Linked DNA regions of Homo sapiens: regions 2 and 3 are each reported to be linked to region 1. The links are microRNA targets in miRTarBase. Many come from high-throughput screens and were not tested one by one. Region 1 holds a microRNA gene; each other region holds the end of a gene's coding sequence.
Evidence for each region. The annotated mature microRNA hsa-miR-1468-3p reads AGCAAAAUAAGCAAAUGGAAAA and lies in region 1 at 2,213-2,234, shown strand. An mRNA with a match to its seed (bases 2 to 7 or 8) in the 3' UTR can be bound and repressed. Matches are read on the target gene's strand: a 7mer-m8 pairs with bases 2 to 8, a 7mer-A1 pairs with bases 2 to 7 and ends in A, and an 8mer does both.

Region 1 (5,073 bases):
AGTTGTTCTGACTTCAGAGATTATGCCCTACCAACTACATTATGTCTCCTCTAACTACTCATATGGTTCTAGGCAAATAGGTGCTCAAGACATAATGACTGGATTCAACAGCATCTATTTACACCTCTGGGATCAACACGTTTTTTGCAGGAGTCTCTAGGCACCTGTTTTTTGCAGGAGTCCCTAGGCTTTATATTAACACTGGCCTGTTTGCATCCAGATCCATTCTCCACTCTTCTCCTGAAAATTACATTTGTTAGATTTCCTTGCTTTCTCACTTCTTTTGTCCAATGGGAGACATGTACAGGAGATTGGTGGCTAGGAGGAAGGGAGAACCCAGGGTATTTCTCCCACCACCTGTATCAGAGAGGTGTTTTCTGGTGGTAGCTGTATTCCTCCATGGCTCCAGCTCCTCTTGAACAACTCTTCCATTCATGGCACCTGCTTCCAATAGGCTGTCCAACCCATGATTTTAGCTTCTGCATGGCTTCATCTGTTATCCGTCCATCCCTACGAGTGGTAGCAGCTTTCTGTGTTTGTTAAATGCTAGGTTGCTGCATCCTCATCCTCTGTCTGGCTTGTTAGCTCTGTAAGTGTCATGCATTAAATGCTCGCAGTTTAAAAGACCTAGGGTGGTTTTTATTTTCCTGATTGGACCATGACCGGCACAGATACTTTCCACAATTCCAGGGCTACTCACATCACATAAATTGGTTTATATCCTTCAGAGCACATATTACAATCTCTAAATATTTTTGTTTGTTTACTTATTTATTGTCTATCTCTCTTCTGTAAGTAGATTGTAAGGTCCATGAGGAACTTTGTCTTGTATCCTGAGCATCTGTCACAATGCCTGGCACACAGGGGCTAAATGATAATGTTGAATGAATGCATCCATCAAAAAATTCCAAGTTTTTATTGGGTATTTACTATGTGCCAGTCACTGTTGTAGAAGATGCAGAAATTAGTAATTCATTGCCACTGCTTCAAAAACACATAATGCCATTTAAGTGAAAGGGGACAGTAAAATGTTCATATGACCATTGTGTTAGTTCGCTAGGGCTGTGCCATAACAAAATACCACAGACTCTGTGGCTTAAACAACAGAAATTGAGTTTCTTATAATCCTGGAGGCCAGAAGTCTGAGAACAAGGTATCAGTGGGGTTGGGTCTTCTGAGGCCTCTCTCCTTGGCTTGCTGTTTAGATGACTGTCTTCTCCGAGTCATCAGATTCTGAGGTACTGGAAGGACTTCAACATATAAATTTTGGGGGAAAACAATTCAGCCCGTAACATCCAGGAAATAAAAAGATCATTTTTAATCGAGACAGTGAAATCGTAGTGCTATAGGAATCAAATGAAAGATGACAAAATCAGGGCCTGGAGGTATTCCTGGAAAGCTTTCTAAAGGTGGTGTGCCTGGTGCCAGATCTTGAACAGTCATGACAGTTTGAATGGGCTGGTTGGCAGGGGAGGTGCATCCAAGATACTGAGCATGAAAGAAGGCCCAGAGATGGGAAAGTGAGAGAACATTGTGGAATCACTGATGCCTGGGTTACCAGACTTGGGAGGGAAGTTGAAAGGTCATCCAGGGCAACCTCCCATTTGATTCAGGAATCCCTTGCCAAAGGGTCATTCAGCTTCTGCTTGTACACCTCCCATGATGGGGTGCTCATTAAGGTACTGCTTCTATCTTTGCCCAGCTCTGCATGGACAAAACAACAGGTTGGATGAAGTGCAGAAGTTGTGCTAAAAAGAAGAGGACAAATAAAGTACGTGTAACAGGCCAGTGATGTCTTCATGTCAATTATCTCCAGGAACTTCTTTCTAATATCATACTGTAACTCCTTTTACTTTGGTTGCAACCTCTGTTTTTGCAATTCTGTCTTTGCCTGACCTGCTCTTCTAGTCAGGAGCCTTGGATTCTTGTCTTGTTTGGCTGTGCTACTTTAAGCAGAAGTCTTTCAATCTCTGGGCTTCAGTGTTCAAGTCTGTAATGGTGGGCAATTAAGAATCCTTGTTGTGTCCATCTCATAGAGTTACTGTGAGGATTATAAGGGATAATAACAGATGTTAGTGTGACTGACAAAGTCAATTTTTAGCCTAAGCAAAGGTACCAGCCTGTGTTGTGTTCCCCAGAGTTGGGGGAATCATAAAGAGGTGGGTGGTTTCTCCGTTTGCCTGTTTCGCTGATGTGCATTCAACTCATTCTCAGCAAAATAAGCAAATGGAAAATTCGTCCATCAACAAGCTACCTTTCATGTTCCTAAGGGCATGAAGGAGAAGCCTGGAGTGGTGTGTGTGAGATAGAAAGGGAGAGATAGCCGAAAGAGGCTTGGAAAGCCGCAGAGGGTAAAGTCGAGGATTTATCTTTTTTTTTTCTTTAATGTGACCTTATGCCCCTTCCCTCTTCCAAACCTCCATTTATTTATCTATAACTTGGAGATACTAATGGCTGCCTCTACAGGGTTGTTCTGAGAAGTGAAAGTAATGCAGATGAAAGCTCTCAGATAGTACACAAAGAGAGAAGACCCTAGGGGAGTATGCAGAGGGAGGGTGGGGGAGGGAGGCATGAGAGTGCTGGCTTGGCTCCACTGGGGCAGGATCTTATTATTCTGGAGATTGGCACAACACCTCTGGTAACTTTGGAAAGGACTTTCCGCTGACTCGACACAATTGGGAAGCCCCACAATAAACAGCATCTAACTCCAGCGCAGCGGGAGGCAGGCAGAGGTAGCAGCTGCCTTCTCCTGGGCGGGCGGAGGCTATTCGCCCCCATCCTCTCCCTGCACCCCACCCCCACAGTTCTCAAGCCTTGGTGGGGGACAAAAGCAGCCCATTAGGACCCCCCCACACTCGCACCTCTCCCTGCCAAGACCTCTAGGAGCAGCAGGGCGGAGAGACAGAGCCTGCCGGTTGGCATGGAACAAACTGACTGAAGGCGAGGTCCGGGGCGGAGGGGATTGGGTTGTAGGGCTGTGGAGGAGGGGCGGCGGAGGGGGCGCTGGGGCTCTCGCTTGCTTCAGCCCAGCCCTTCTAGTCAGCCCGCGACAACTCGCGCCAGCTACGGGGCCTCAGAGAAGCCGGACTTCGCAAGCACCATGCAGTGGATAAGGGGCGGATCGGGAATGGTGAGTGCATGTAACCTTGGCTTCCCTTGCTTGAGCCTCTCAGTCCCCCAGCCCCACCTCCAGTTCCTCCAACGAGCCACAAGGCAGTGAGCACCCTGGCCTCTGCCCACCGCCCTAGCCGCCGTCCTTGAGACACCAGTGAGCTTGCTGTGGCCATTTTAGGAGTCCCTGCTAGCCTGCCTGCCCAGGAAACCCCCCTACCATCCCCCTCCACTTTTCTATCTCCCTCTGAGATTAAGGTGGAATAGGGGTGGGGGCCAGATTATGTGCCCAGGAACATCCCAGGGGTCACTTGGGAGGCCAGAGAGGGAAGGGGGATGGCAGAGGGCTTCTCTGGAAGCAGTGAAGCTCGCAGGAGGCTGACAAGCTGGCACGGGGTTGTGGGGGGAGGGGACGGTCACAAAGCCTGGAATTGTGGAGGGGGCCTTATGGGAGAGCTGCATGACTCCCCCCTGCCCCCAACTAGATTTTCTGCAACTCCTTTCCCTGGTCAGCCCCAGAGCATGAGGGCCAGAGAGCCACTCTCTCTCTCTCAGGAAGCTGCCTGAGGGAGCCCTAAAGCCCTTCCTTGTCCGGGCTGGGGTCACCCTGTCCACACTTGGGGCTTTGTCAAGGAGAGACAGCTGCAGAAACCCACATTCTGGAAATGGGCTTGGGCCACAGTCAGTTAACAGAGCTCTTCTCTCCCTCCCAAGGAGTGTGTGCTTGTGTGTGTGTTTAGTATAATCCTCCAACAGTTCATTTTATGCCATGGTGTTCCCTTCTCCACCTGGAGACCTTGGAATGACTTCCTTTTGCAGAGAGGAAGTGGTGGCTGCATTTTGATGCCTCTCTGACTTAGCCAGGAGCAGCTTAAGCCTGGTTAGGGCCTCTGGGGAGTGGGAGGCCCCCATGACTTTGTCCTCAGCTGGGAGGCATAAGCAAAAGGGCCTTAGAAGGCAGTTAGGTTGGGTCAGCAGGCACTGATGGCAATAGCCCACACTTCTACGCTGCCACCCATAACCCGCAGATGAAGGAAAGTAGCCTGAAGTGGTTGGGCAAAAACTGATATTTAACTCCATTTTTGCTTTCATTGTGGAGGGGAAGAGGGAATCTGGTGTGGGCTAGGACTATATTCAGAGGGGCTGTCCTCTTCCCTTCCTCAGAGTTTTGTTAGATCTCTGTTTCAGTGGTTCTTAAGGGCATCCGGTTCATATGCCTATGTGCTGGGGCTTCAAAAGACCCTTCTTCCCAGACCTCCCTACTTCCCTGAGGTCCCATTAAAGCTGCATCAAATGTTTGTAGAACCAGAAAAGATTAGAGCAGGTAAAGACCTTAGAGTCCTTGCTGTCCAGCCAGGAAAGCTGGGATCCAGAGAGTGGGAGAGACTTGCCCAGGACCACAAACTCCTTGGAGGCAAAGCTGAGTCTAGCACTTGAGTCTCCTGACTGCCACAGTCCTTCCCCACTGCTCCACCAATCATTTGCTCAAATGGTGCTGAGAGGGGAAGAAAGGAACATAGTCATGATCTTGGGAAAGGACTTTCTTCAGGATGATCTAGTGCCATTAAATTTACCTGAAAGCCGGGCGCGGCCGCCCACGCCTGTAATCCCAGCACTTTGGGAGGCCGAGGCGGGTGGATCATCTGAGGTCGGGAGCTCAAGAACAGCCTGACCAACGTGGAGAAACCCCGTCTCTACTAAAAAGACAAAATTAGCTGGACGTAGTGGCACATGCCTGAGGCTGAGGCAGGAGAATCACTCGAACCCAGGAGGGGGAGGTTGCGGTGAGCCGAGATTGTGCCGTTGCAGTCCAGCCTGAGCAACAAGAGCGAAACTCCATCTCAAAAAAAAAAAAAAAAAATTACCCGAAAAAAATCCATGCCAGTCCTGGCATTTCTGGCAACTGGGAACTGGGTCAGGGTGAGACTTACTTCCTCTCCCAAATATATTGAAGTATAGGGG
Region 2 (5,069 bases), not on the chromosome of region 1:
AGTGGGATCCCCAAGAGGGAAGCATGAGGAGCTCTGGTGCCCAGGGTACCCTTGACACTGAACCTGGGCCCTGCCCTGACCCCACTCCTTGCAGACCCTGGGTGGGCCTGAGAGGGCTCTGCCCAGGCATGGTGACAGCTGGGGTTCTCTGCTGCAGCTGGAAGATCACGAGTACAAGCCTTTGGACCCTAAAGACATCCGCCTCCCACCCCCCATGCCGCCCAGCGAGAGGCTGCTGGCTGCAGTGGAGGCCTTCTACAGCCCCCCGTCCCACGACAGGCCCAGGAACAGGTAAGGGGCCCAGGTCAGTGGGGTGGGCGGGAGGCCTCTGTCCCCTCTCCCGGCTCCCTGCAACCACACCTTCTGTCCAGGCTAGAAAATGTGGCTGTCCCTCAGGAGAAACTGCCCTCCCCCCGCCTGAGTGACAAGTGTGTGTCACAGGCACAGCACACACGTGGCCCTCAATGAAGGGCGTTTTAATGGAGACACATCAGAAGAAGTTAGGGAAGGTGTGGCACGGCGGCACGTCTCAAGCAGCCGGCTGCCACAGGGCCCTCAGCCCACCCTTCCCAGTGGTCACCCCTCCTTCCTGTGCTGGGCTGCAGGCCTGTCCACCCATGAGTCAGTGTTCCTGTTTCCCAGTTCCACAGACCATGGGTCCCCACCACCTCAGCGGAACAGCAGGGTGGCAAGGGCGTGGGCACCAGAGGAGCCACTGGGCTGCAGGAGGACAGCCCTGTGGGAACACTGAACCAAGCTCTACTGCGCCCATGCTCGGAGCCCACAGCCACAGGGCCATGTACTCTCCAAGGTTCTGTGGATTAACTCCTGATGACTTTTTCACGACTTCCTTGTGGGTGGGTGTCACGTGGTCACACACGGAATGCCGTGTCTTACAGTGAAGGCTGGGAGCAGAACGGCCTCTATGAGTTCTTCCGAGCAAAAATGCGGGCCCGGCGGAGGAAAGGCCAGGAGAAGAGGAACAGGTAAAAGCGCAGATGTCTGCAGTGGCCGGGGGGCCAGGGTCCACAGCTTGTGATGGGTGGGAGCAGACCCCAGATACACTCATCACGTCCACCCTCACACAGCCTGTGCCTATGGGGCGGTGTTTTCCACAAGGCCTGAATTCACACAGCAGCAGGCTCGGCCACACTATTTAGGAACTTGGTACCGTTGCTGTGGCTATGGCGCCACATCCACAGCCAGAGCCCCTGCATCTGGGGTGGTCTAGGAACCTGAGGGCCAGGGTGGGCTGGGTGCAGCCCATCCACTGGGGCACCTGATCATCAGGCCTCTCCCCACAGCGGACCCTCGAGGTCTCGGAGCAGATCCAAGAGTCGAGGGCGTTCTTCCTCCCGCTCCAACTCAAGATCCTCCAAGTCTTCAGGCTCGTACTCAAGGTCAAGGTCGCGCTCCTGCTCCCGTTCCTACTCCCGCTCCAGATCTAGGTAGGCAGAGGCTGCCTCAGGGCAGTGCCTGAGGCCTCTTCCTGTGGCCTCCCCACGACGCCTGGCTGCTGCTGACCCTTGGGCACCCTTCCCTGCAGAAGTCGGAGCAGGTCGCGCTCCTCCAGAAGCCGCTCCCGGTCCCAGTCGCGGTCCCGGTCCAAGTCGTACTCCCCAGGAAGAAGACGCCGGTCACGGTCCAGGAGCCCCACCCCGCCGTAAGATCCTGTCTTAAGTGCTGCGCTGGTAACTCTGGGAAGCTGCGGTGCTTTGCTGTGAATGTGGAAACATTGGTGGTTAGGAGACTGTGTTAGGAGGCCGCCAGCATTAGCCCGGGGACAGTGGCACCCCTCACCCTTCACCACAGTAGCCACTTGGCGAAGCCTGAGGCAGTAACTGGGGTCTGCTTTCTAACCACCATCTGGGTTGGAGGTGTCCTGCTCTCAATGCTGAGCGTGGGGTGGGGGCCAGCGTCTGGAGCCCCCTTATCTAGCTGAGACAGGATAAACGGGTAGAGACGCAAAATCTGCATACGGTGTCACCTGGTGACAGTGAGCATGCACGCAAGCTGCGGCTGTGAGGTCCTCATCACTGTCATTCCAATAAATGTCTCAGTTACTTCTTAAAAAGAATAACCTGTCTCGATTTTAGTTCCTCTGCTGGTCTGGGTTCTAATTCGGCGCCTCCCATCCCTGACTCAAGGCTCGGAGAAGAGAACAAAGGCCATCAGATGCTGGTGAAGATGGGTAAGGCGAGGGAATGGGGAGGGCGCGGGATGGGTCCTCACGCGTGCTGGGCCCGGGAGTCACCAGCGCTTTCTCTTCCTCAGTGCATGTGGGGATGGATGGAGTCAGGCCGGTTCTGACTCCACCCAGACCCTCTAGACAGGGCCGGCCTGCGGGTTCTCTCTACCCATTTCCCATGTCTACACTGCCTGTCTGGACATTCAGCCCCCCACGTGCACCCCCATCTGCCTCCGCCTTGTTGTGGTTGTGACTGCGTCTCTGTTTCCAGGCTGGAGCGGCTCAGGCGGCCTCGGTGCGAAGGAGCAAGGGATCCAGGACCCCATCAAGGGCGGGGACGTCCGGGATAAGTGGGACCAGTATAAAGGCGTGGGCGTGGCTCTGGATGACCCCTATGAGAACTACCGCAGGAACAAGAGCTACTCCTTCATCGCCCGCATGAAGGCCAGGGACGAGTGTAAGTAGGCGCCCATGCCGGGAGCCGCGCCGGTGGCCAGCGGTGCCGGCTGTGGGACCTTCCTGGCTGACTGGCAGAGGAAGATTGCAGTGACAGCTCAGTTCTTACACCGTCTCCACTTGTGGAGAGCCACAGGAAGAGAAGGAAGACCAGCGCATGCCCAGTGGGAACGCCGTGCTCCATGGCGTGGAGGGCACGGGTGCCACCCACAAACCACACCAGGAGGCGCTGCAGCCACCAGGGCCCCAGGCTCGTTTTCCTTTATAGCGAAGCAAAAAACACAAGACCCTCCGCCCGAGTAAATTCTTCAGCCACGAAGGGATGGATGTGCATCTGCCCTAAGTCAGATTGAAGCCTCCTCCTAGGCTCCAGGAGGAGCATGTGCAGGAAGGGTTGGCCTGAGCCAGAGCCGGCACCCCAGCTCCTTCCTCCAGCTCCCCGCACCCACCGGCCCTGACCTGGCTTCCCCTCGGCTGTGTAGGGACAAAGCCGAAGCCCAGTGCCATGACTGCCCGCGGATTGAAAAACAGAAACACAAAACTTTGACTTGACTTGCGAAGTGAAGCAGGGTTTTCATTTTTACTCTCCTTGGTTTAGGTCTAGAAAGAAGAATACTGACCTGAGAGGAGGCCCAGTGAGATTCTGAAACCTAATTCTTCGAAGGCGTACTGGCCCTTAGTTCAGTTATTTTAGTTGTATAAGTTGATATTTTTTTTCTGGAATGTAGCCATTTGCTGTTATCTGGGAAACAAGATTCTAACAGGAAACCAGCCTAAGACACTTCAGGTTGAGCGCTGCCTCGGAGTCTGTGCCCGTCGCGTCCCCTGCTTGAGTTTTGCACTTGGAAGAACCCTGCACCGGCTGGCGTGTGCGACGGCCCAGTCCCATCCAGAGCATGGAGCCCGACCCCAGCCAGCGCCTTCCACTCCATCATTTCATTTCACACCCCCGAAGGGAGGGGAGGCCAGGAGGGGAGCTGCTCCTGCCAGAAGCTGGTGGGTGACCGTTGGGAATCGGCCACACCTGGTGTCCATGGGCAGCCTGGTGCAATTCCATTCATTTGTACAGAAACATTTTTGAAAAATTCTTTTCAATAAGATGCAAAATCTTCCAACTTTTCAACCCAACGTGATGAATATTTGATTTTGTTCTAGATTTCCTGTAGCTGTGAATTGTTAAAATGTATGATTCAGGATAAAACGTAAACACGTGCTGTTAGTAATTTCTTGTGGATTTCATTGTTTTGCCTTCAAATAAAGCCTTTTTTTAAAGACCTTTCTCCCGCACATGTGTAAGTCAGAAGTGTGCACGGGCTGAGTGAGGAGACACATGTCCTGGTTTGAGCTGTGCAGCCTGGGGTCAGAGGCCGTGTCCAGGGGCTCACATGGCGTCCCCAGCGTGCTGACCTGGTCCCATGTCCTTACCCTCGAGCAGGGCTTCTCCCATCCACCCTGTCTCCCTCTGGCTCACTGGGATGCCAGGACCTGCCTGGGTGGAGCTGCTCTGCAGAGGCTGGTGGCCCCTGTCCTGCTGTGAGTGGGGACAGCTCCACTGAAATTCTATTTCCACTGGCCTGTGGTGTCATAGAGCTGGGCATGCTGCTGGGAGAGCTGTCACTGAGCTGGGATTTGGCTCAGAGGAGTCTGGGGCCCTCACCGCAGCACCACCTGCCCCACCATGGAATGTCACACCTGGATGCTGACTGTGTGTGTGTGTGTCCATCACCCCAGTACCACCTGCCCCCACCACGGAACGTCACACTTGGACACTGATGAGCTCTATGTTTGTGTGCGTGTGTGTGCACTGAGTACACAGGACGGGATACCTTTTGTTAAGACGTCACGTCAAGCTCCACCTGCTGGCGCTCACAGCTCCTTGTTCACCTCCTCCAGGGCATCCTCCATGGTCAGTGGGGCAGGTCTGTGGCACCTAATGTACTGTCAGGCAGAGAACAGACCACGCCATCACCATCGTCACCTCAGTACACTCTGAGACAGGGTGCTGGAGGAGGGAGTGGAGCCAGCACCTGTCCCCAGCAGGCTCCTGTCAGTGACAGAAGTGTAAAACCACAGGATGTGTGTGACAGGTTGGCGCACGGGGCTGTGGGAACACAGGGTAGAGGGTCAGCCCTGCGAGGGGTGAGCCCTGACAGAGAAAGGGAGGGGTGCCTGTGAGTGCCCTTGGAGTGGCTGAGATCAGGGAGAAGCGCCTGGAGCAAGCAGCTGGGAGCTATGGTGGGCTGCAGCCAGGTGGCACAGTCAGATGGCTTCTGCCTGCATCGGATGGGCTGATGGACGCCCAACAGAGGCATGAGTTCAAAGCCCCCAGAGGGCTGCAATGAGCAAAGTTGACATTGTAGAGACCCGTGGGACTCACAACCTGCCCTCTTCAGCAGATAAACCACAAGGAAACGAGAGGCCTGGC
Region 3 (5,069 bases), not on the chromosome of region 1:
AGTTCTGGGGAATGGTGTTTTGCAGCTCTGCCTCTGTGACAGTGGGGGACTAAGTCTAGTTCAAGAGGAGGCATGGGTTTGTGTGCCAATAAGTTCTTTGTTGTTGGGGGAGGATTGGTTTAAAAGGTCTTATTTGGAAGGAGTTTAAAATTGTAATCTCTTCTGTCTTTCCTTTTGGTTTTGCTTTCTAAATTTGTTTGACGACCTTATTCTTTCCACACAAACTCACCATTTTCCCTCTTTTTTCTTTTCTCTCCTTAGGTATTCCAGCGTCTTCAGGAAACAGTTTAGACTCTCTTCAAGATGACAATCCTCCACACTGGCTAAAATCCCTTCAGGCCCTCACAGAGATGGACGGCCCCAGCGCTGCTCCATCACAGACCCACCACAGCGCCCCCTTCAGCACACAGATCCCGCTGCACAGAGCCAGTTGGAATCCCTACCCTCCTCCTTCAAACCCTTCCAGCTTCCACTCCCCACCCCCAGGCTTTCAGACAGCCTTCAGACCCCCCAGCAAAACCCCCACAGATTTACTACAGAGTTCAACACTGGACCGCCATTAGGCAAAGAGGAGCAACCATTAGAAAATGCAGGATTTGTCCCACTCTGTTTTCTCCCTCTCAGCCCACCACCCACAGCTCCCTTCTCATCTCTTATGTTCTGAAGAATCCAGTACCTGATCAATTTTTTTTCTCCCTAACCCCAGATGCAATGCGATCACAGGGTCATTACCATCTCTTTATTAATTGTAAAAATTTTTGTTGATCCAGCATTTGAGTGACACTGTTGAATGTTTCTAAAAATGCCTTTTTAAGGAGAGAAAAAAAAATCAAAGGGCAGTCTCAATACTTAGAAAATTATTGTTTGTCTGTTGCGCATAATAATGACATAATCTGCTTAGCAGAAAATGACGATTAATCTATAGGAAAGCTCAAGTAAATGCATTATCAACTGCAGAAGTTTGAAAACCAGGTTCATTTACGTGAGATTGCTAAATGCATGGGGGAAAGCAGTGGTCCTAGCATCCATCTTGTATTCAGCTTATCATTATTGCAGGGAAAATGCTTTTAATTTAAATTAATTTTTAATTCTTTTGGCAAGTTGATGGCAAGGACTTGATTGTGTCATTAAGCAAAAGAATGTATTGGAAGTTGATGGAAAGACAAATTCATCTGTAGTAGTAACTGGCCGATTGCTAAAGAGTTCATAAGGAGGTGAGAAGTAATTTTTTTAAAGGAGAAAAATTTTTTGGCTTTAGATTTAAAGTAAATTGAAATGTTTTAAAGAAAAAAGTATTCACAGATTTAATACCTATTAATAATATAAGAGCTGAAATGTAAGTCATTTCTTCAGTCCTTCTCCTCTGTCGGAATCTTTTTTGTTTTACCATAAATTCACCTGACGAGGGCACTCTGAGATAGCACTGCTCTGGGGCCATCTGATCACCATCGGGAGCAAATCTCTGACCTCCTTGCCTGCAGCTTTTACTTAACCCTGTAGTTTCTGGACGTTTGTGCAGTATTGAAAAGACAGGAGAAAAGAAAACAGAAACCTGGTTATAACCTGACGCTAAAACTAAAAACAAGGAAATGTACCTCTTTCTTCAGAATTAAAACTAAAATCTTAAATAAAACAGAAAACTTGATGGTGACACTTGGGTTGTCCTTGTTTTTGTTTTTCTGTTTTGTTGGATGTGAGTTTGAAAGGTTTTGTGACAAGTAGCCATCAGATGTTTCCATTTGATTTTACATCTTCAACAGTGGGGAGGGAGGATGGTTTAGAAGAAGAAAGTGGAGGAGAAACAACCATTTTATTGACAGTCAATGGCATCCTTGACGTTCAGCCCATCTTGTCCTCAAGAATCCCTCTTCCAGTGCCTTTCAGTAGAAGATTCCTCTTTCTGCTATTGTATTATGCATGCCAAGCCTTCCCAACTGAGAAGCCTTATGTGCCAGTAATGGAGAGGTTATTGACATGTTGAGATGTTGGTTCTCTTTAGGGAGACCTGGCAGGAGCAGCAGTCACTATGTCACACAAGTGGCATCTCTTTGTGAGTGCCATGATGGGAAAGAGATCGGGAAACACTGATGTAGATGATCCACAGACACATCTTTTATGACTGACCATTTTAGGAAGTACCTGTTGATGGGGCAACGATCGCACCACTGACCAAAAGAGGGTAGAGGATGAAAGTTACCTGTTCCCCAACAGAGCACCAGGATCTGTGTGGTTTGTATGTCTTGCCTTGGGCTGCATTCAGAAGCCCAAAGCTGGAACTGGCATATTTTCAGCCATGTCCATTAAGGGATGTGATGTAGGATCAACTAAATAGATCTAGATCGTACGTTCTGTGCTTTCAGGTGGGTTTTTTTCGTCCTTACCTTTATGCTGTACTTTAATTTGTTAAAATTTCAACACAATTTTTAGAAACTTAAACATGATATTCTCAAATAAATGTCACCAGAAATAGATGGTGATCAAGTGGATAGTAAATTGTTTTGTAAAACTAACAAAATTTCCCTGGATAAGAGGAGAGGACTAGAAATGACAGGCTCTCTTTGCCCTTGAACTTCACTTCAGTCTCCTGAACCTTCACATTGTACTGCAAAGTGATGGACCAATGCACAAATAATATTCAGATGGCAGTGAATTGTAATCAAGGCTTTTTGCGGGGATGCGGGGAAGTCCTGAGATGGGCATATCAATAAAAATGTTGCTTTTTTTGTAAAAGGAGGGAACTCCTACCTTATAAGGCTGTGCTGTAATTGTGTGTGTGTTTAATCAGTCATACAGAAGAGTTTATAAAAAGCATGACTTTATAAAAAGTATGAAGAATAAAAATAATAATGACCTGTGTGTCTACCACCAAGGTTAAAAATAGAGGCCAGGCATGGTGGCTCATGCCTGTAAGCTCAGCACTTTGGGAGGCCGAGGCGGGCAGATCACTGTAGGTCAGGAGTTCGAGACCAGCCTGGCTAACATGGTGAAACCCCATTTCTACTAAAACTACAAAACAAAAATTAGCTGGGCATGGTGGCTCGTGCCTATAATCCCAGCTATTCGGGAGGCTGAGGCAAGAGAATCTCTTGAACTCAAGAGGCAGAGGTTGCAGTGAGTCCAGGTCACACCATTGCACTCCAGCTTGGGCAACAAGAGTGAGACTCCGTCTCAAAAAAAAAAAAAAAAAAATAGAACCTCTGGTATCTTAAAACCTCTATTTGCCCCTCTCCAGTTAGACTTCATTTTCTTTCCTTATCGTTTCAAATAGCCATTATTTTAATTTCTGTGTTAATCTTCAAGAGTTTTGCCAGCTATGTATCTATCCCTGAATAGATTGTTTAGTTTTAAAAAGCTGAGTAATAAACCCAAGCCTAGCTGTAGAAGGAAAGGGTGATGTTGTCACTATTAGATTAAGACTTTTAGGAGAAGATAAACTAAATAGCTTCTGGGGCATAGTTTGGCTTTAGCGTCTCCGATCATTTATGAAAGCCTCTTAGAAGTACAGTGGCCAAGGTTATGAGTGAGTCCTGGAAAACAGGGCTTGCCAGTTGGGGTAGGTCTTGTCAGGTAAGCACAGTCCCGGGTGTCTGGCAGAAATATGGTCTACAGGATCAGTTTGCTGTCTGTTTCCTGTGTCAAAGCTCACCATGGCTTCCCTCCAGTCCTCTGGAGTAGATCACAGACACTTAGTGAATTAAGTGTCTTAACCCTTTGGGGTGAGAGGTGGCGTTTAAAACAAGTGTCAGCTGATTAATTCACCAGGGCTTGGCGGGGAGAACAGAAACTTCATTAGGCTTGGTCAAAATCAGAAAGTACAGAAAAGAGCCTGAACCAAACTGACTTAGGTGGCCTGTTGGTATAATAGCAGTGGGAATCTTGGTACTGACAGCTGTCATGGATCACAGTACTCAGATCTGGTACACAGCAGTCATTTCTAGTATTTCACTTTGTTCTCTCTCCTTTCTTAGATGATCTTCCTATATTCCTAGATCCCACACCCTAGTCTTTTATTTATTTATTTTTTTAAATCTCATTTTGCTGGAGTGACATCCTCCAGTATTTCTTAAGGAAAGGTACATGGGAGATAAATATTTTAGTAATTTGCTTGTCTGAAATAATATTTAATTCTACTTCTCAGTTGATAGTTTGGTAAATACAGGATTCTAGGTTGTAGATATTTTTTTCTGCAGAAATTTAAAGGCTTATTAACTTCTTGCTTCCAGTTTTGTTGTTGAACAATCCAAAGATGCTGTTATCCTCTATATGTAATCTTTCTCCCTCTCTGGAAGCTTGTAGCAAGTTTGTCTTCTGTGTTCTGGAATTCCATAGTGATCTCCCTTGGTGTGGGTCTATTTTATTTTATTTATTTATTTATTTATTATTTTTTTTATTATTATTTATTTATTTATTTTTTGAGACGGATTCTCACTCTGTTGCCCAGGCTGGAGGGCAGTGGTGCGATCTTGGCTCACTGCAACCTCCGTCTCTCAGGTTCAAGTAATCCTTCTGCCTCAGCCTCTCAGGTAGCTGGGATTACAGGTGCCCACCACCACGCCTGGCTAAGTTTTGTATTTTTAGTAGAAACAGGGTTTCACCATGTTGACCAGGCTGGTCTCAAACTCCTGACCTCAGGTGATCTGCCTGCCTCGGCCTCCCAAGGTGCTGGGATTACAGGCGTGAGCCACTGCTCCCAGCCAGGTGGGGGTCTATTTTAATTCATTTTGGTGGACACAGTGGACATACAGTATGCTTTTAAAATCTTATGACTCATTTTCTTCAGTTCTCGGAAATTTTCTTGAATTATTAGTGAACTTCTTGCACTTACTTTCTCTGTTCTCCCTTTCTAAAAATTCTATTATTTAAATACTAGACTTTCTGGACTTCTGCTTTTTAAAATATTTTCTCCAATTTTCTATCTGTGTCTTTGGCTCTTCTTTCTAGGAAGTTTTTTTCTCAACTTTATAGTTTTCTTCTCCTTGTGTTGTCTGTTTCTCCAAGTTGCTTTTATCTGTTTGCTTTAATTTCTGTCTTCCTTGTTAGAGACTTCTACACTTGATCTTAGCCAAAAG

Region 2: miRTarBase lists C19orf44 as a target of hsa-miR-1468-3p. The part of its 3' UTR that is shown has no 7-base or 8-base seed match.
Region 3: the mRNA of CNOT4 is a reported target of hsa-miR-1468-3p. The part of its 3' UTR that is shown has no 7-base or 8-base seed match.

The regions. Positions count from the first base shown.
Region 1 is chrX:63,783,173-63,788,245 of GRCh38, reverse strand. It overlaps MIR1468 (microRNA 1468), which reads left to right and starts at 2,159; the gene lies at 2,159-2,244. It overlaps ARHGEF9 (Cdc42 guanine nucleotide exchange factor 9), which reads left to right and starts at 3,032. Exons shown (of 10, transcript NM_001353921.2): 1 at 3,032-3,130. The coding sequence starts at 3,101.
Region 2 is chr19:16,516,743-16,521,811 of GRCh38, reverse strand. It overlaps C19orf44 (chromosome 19 open reading frame 44), which reads right to left. Exons shown (of 9, transcript NM_032207.4): 8 at 4,471-4,582; 9 at 460-1,718. The coding sequence ends at 4,511. CHERP (calcium homeostasis endoplasmic reticulum protein) reads left to right here. Exons shown (of 17, transcript NM_006387.6): 12 at 158-291; 13 at 900-986; 14 at 1,305-1,448; 15 at 1,547-1,663; 16 at 2,097-2,191; 17 at 2,460-3,918. The coding sequence ends at 2,653. Among named protein-coding and RNA genes, the nearest start is that of C19orf44, 23 kb to the right of the region's middle.
Region 3 is chr7:135,358,379-135,363,447 of GRCh38, reverse strand. CNOT4 (CCR4-NOT transcription complex subunit 4) reads left to right here. Exons shown (of 12, transcript NM_001190850.2): 12 at 262-1,653. The coding sequence ends at 563. Among named protein-coding and RNA genes, the nearest start is that of STRA8, 130 kb to the right of the region's middle.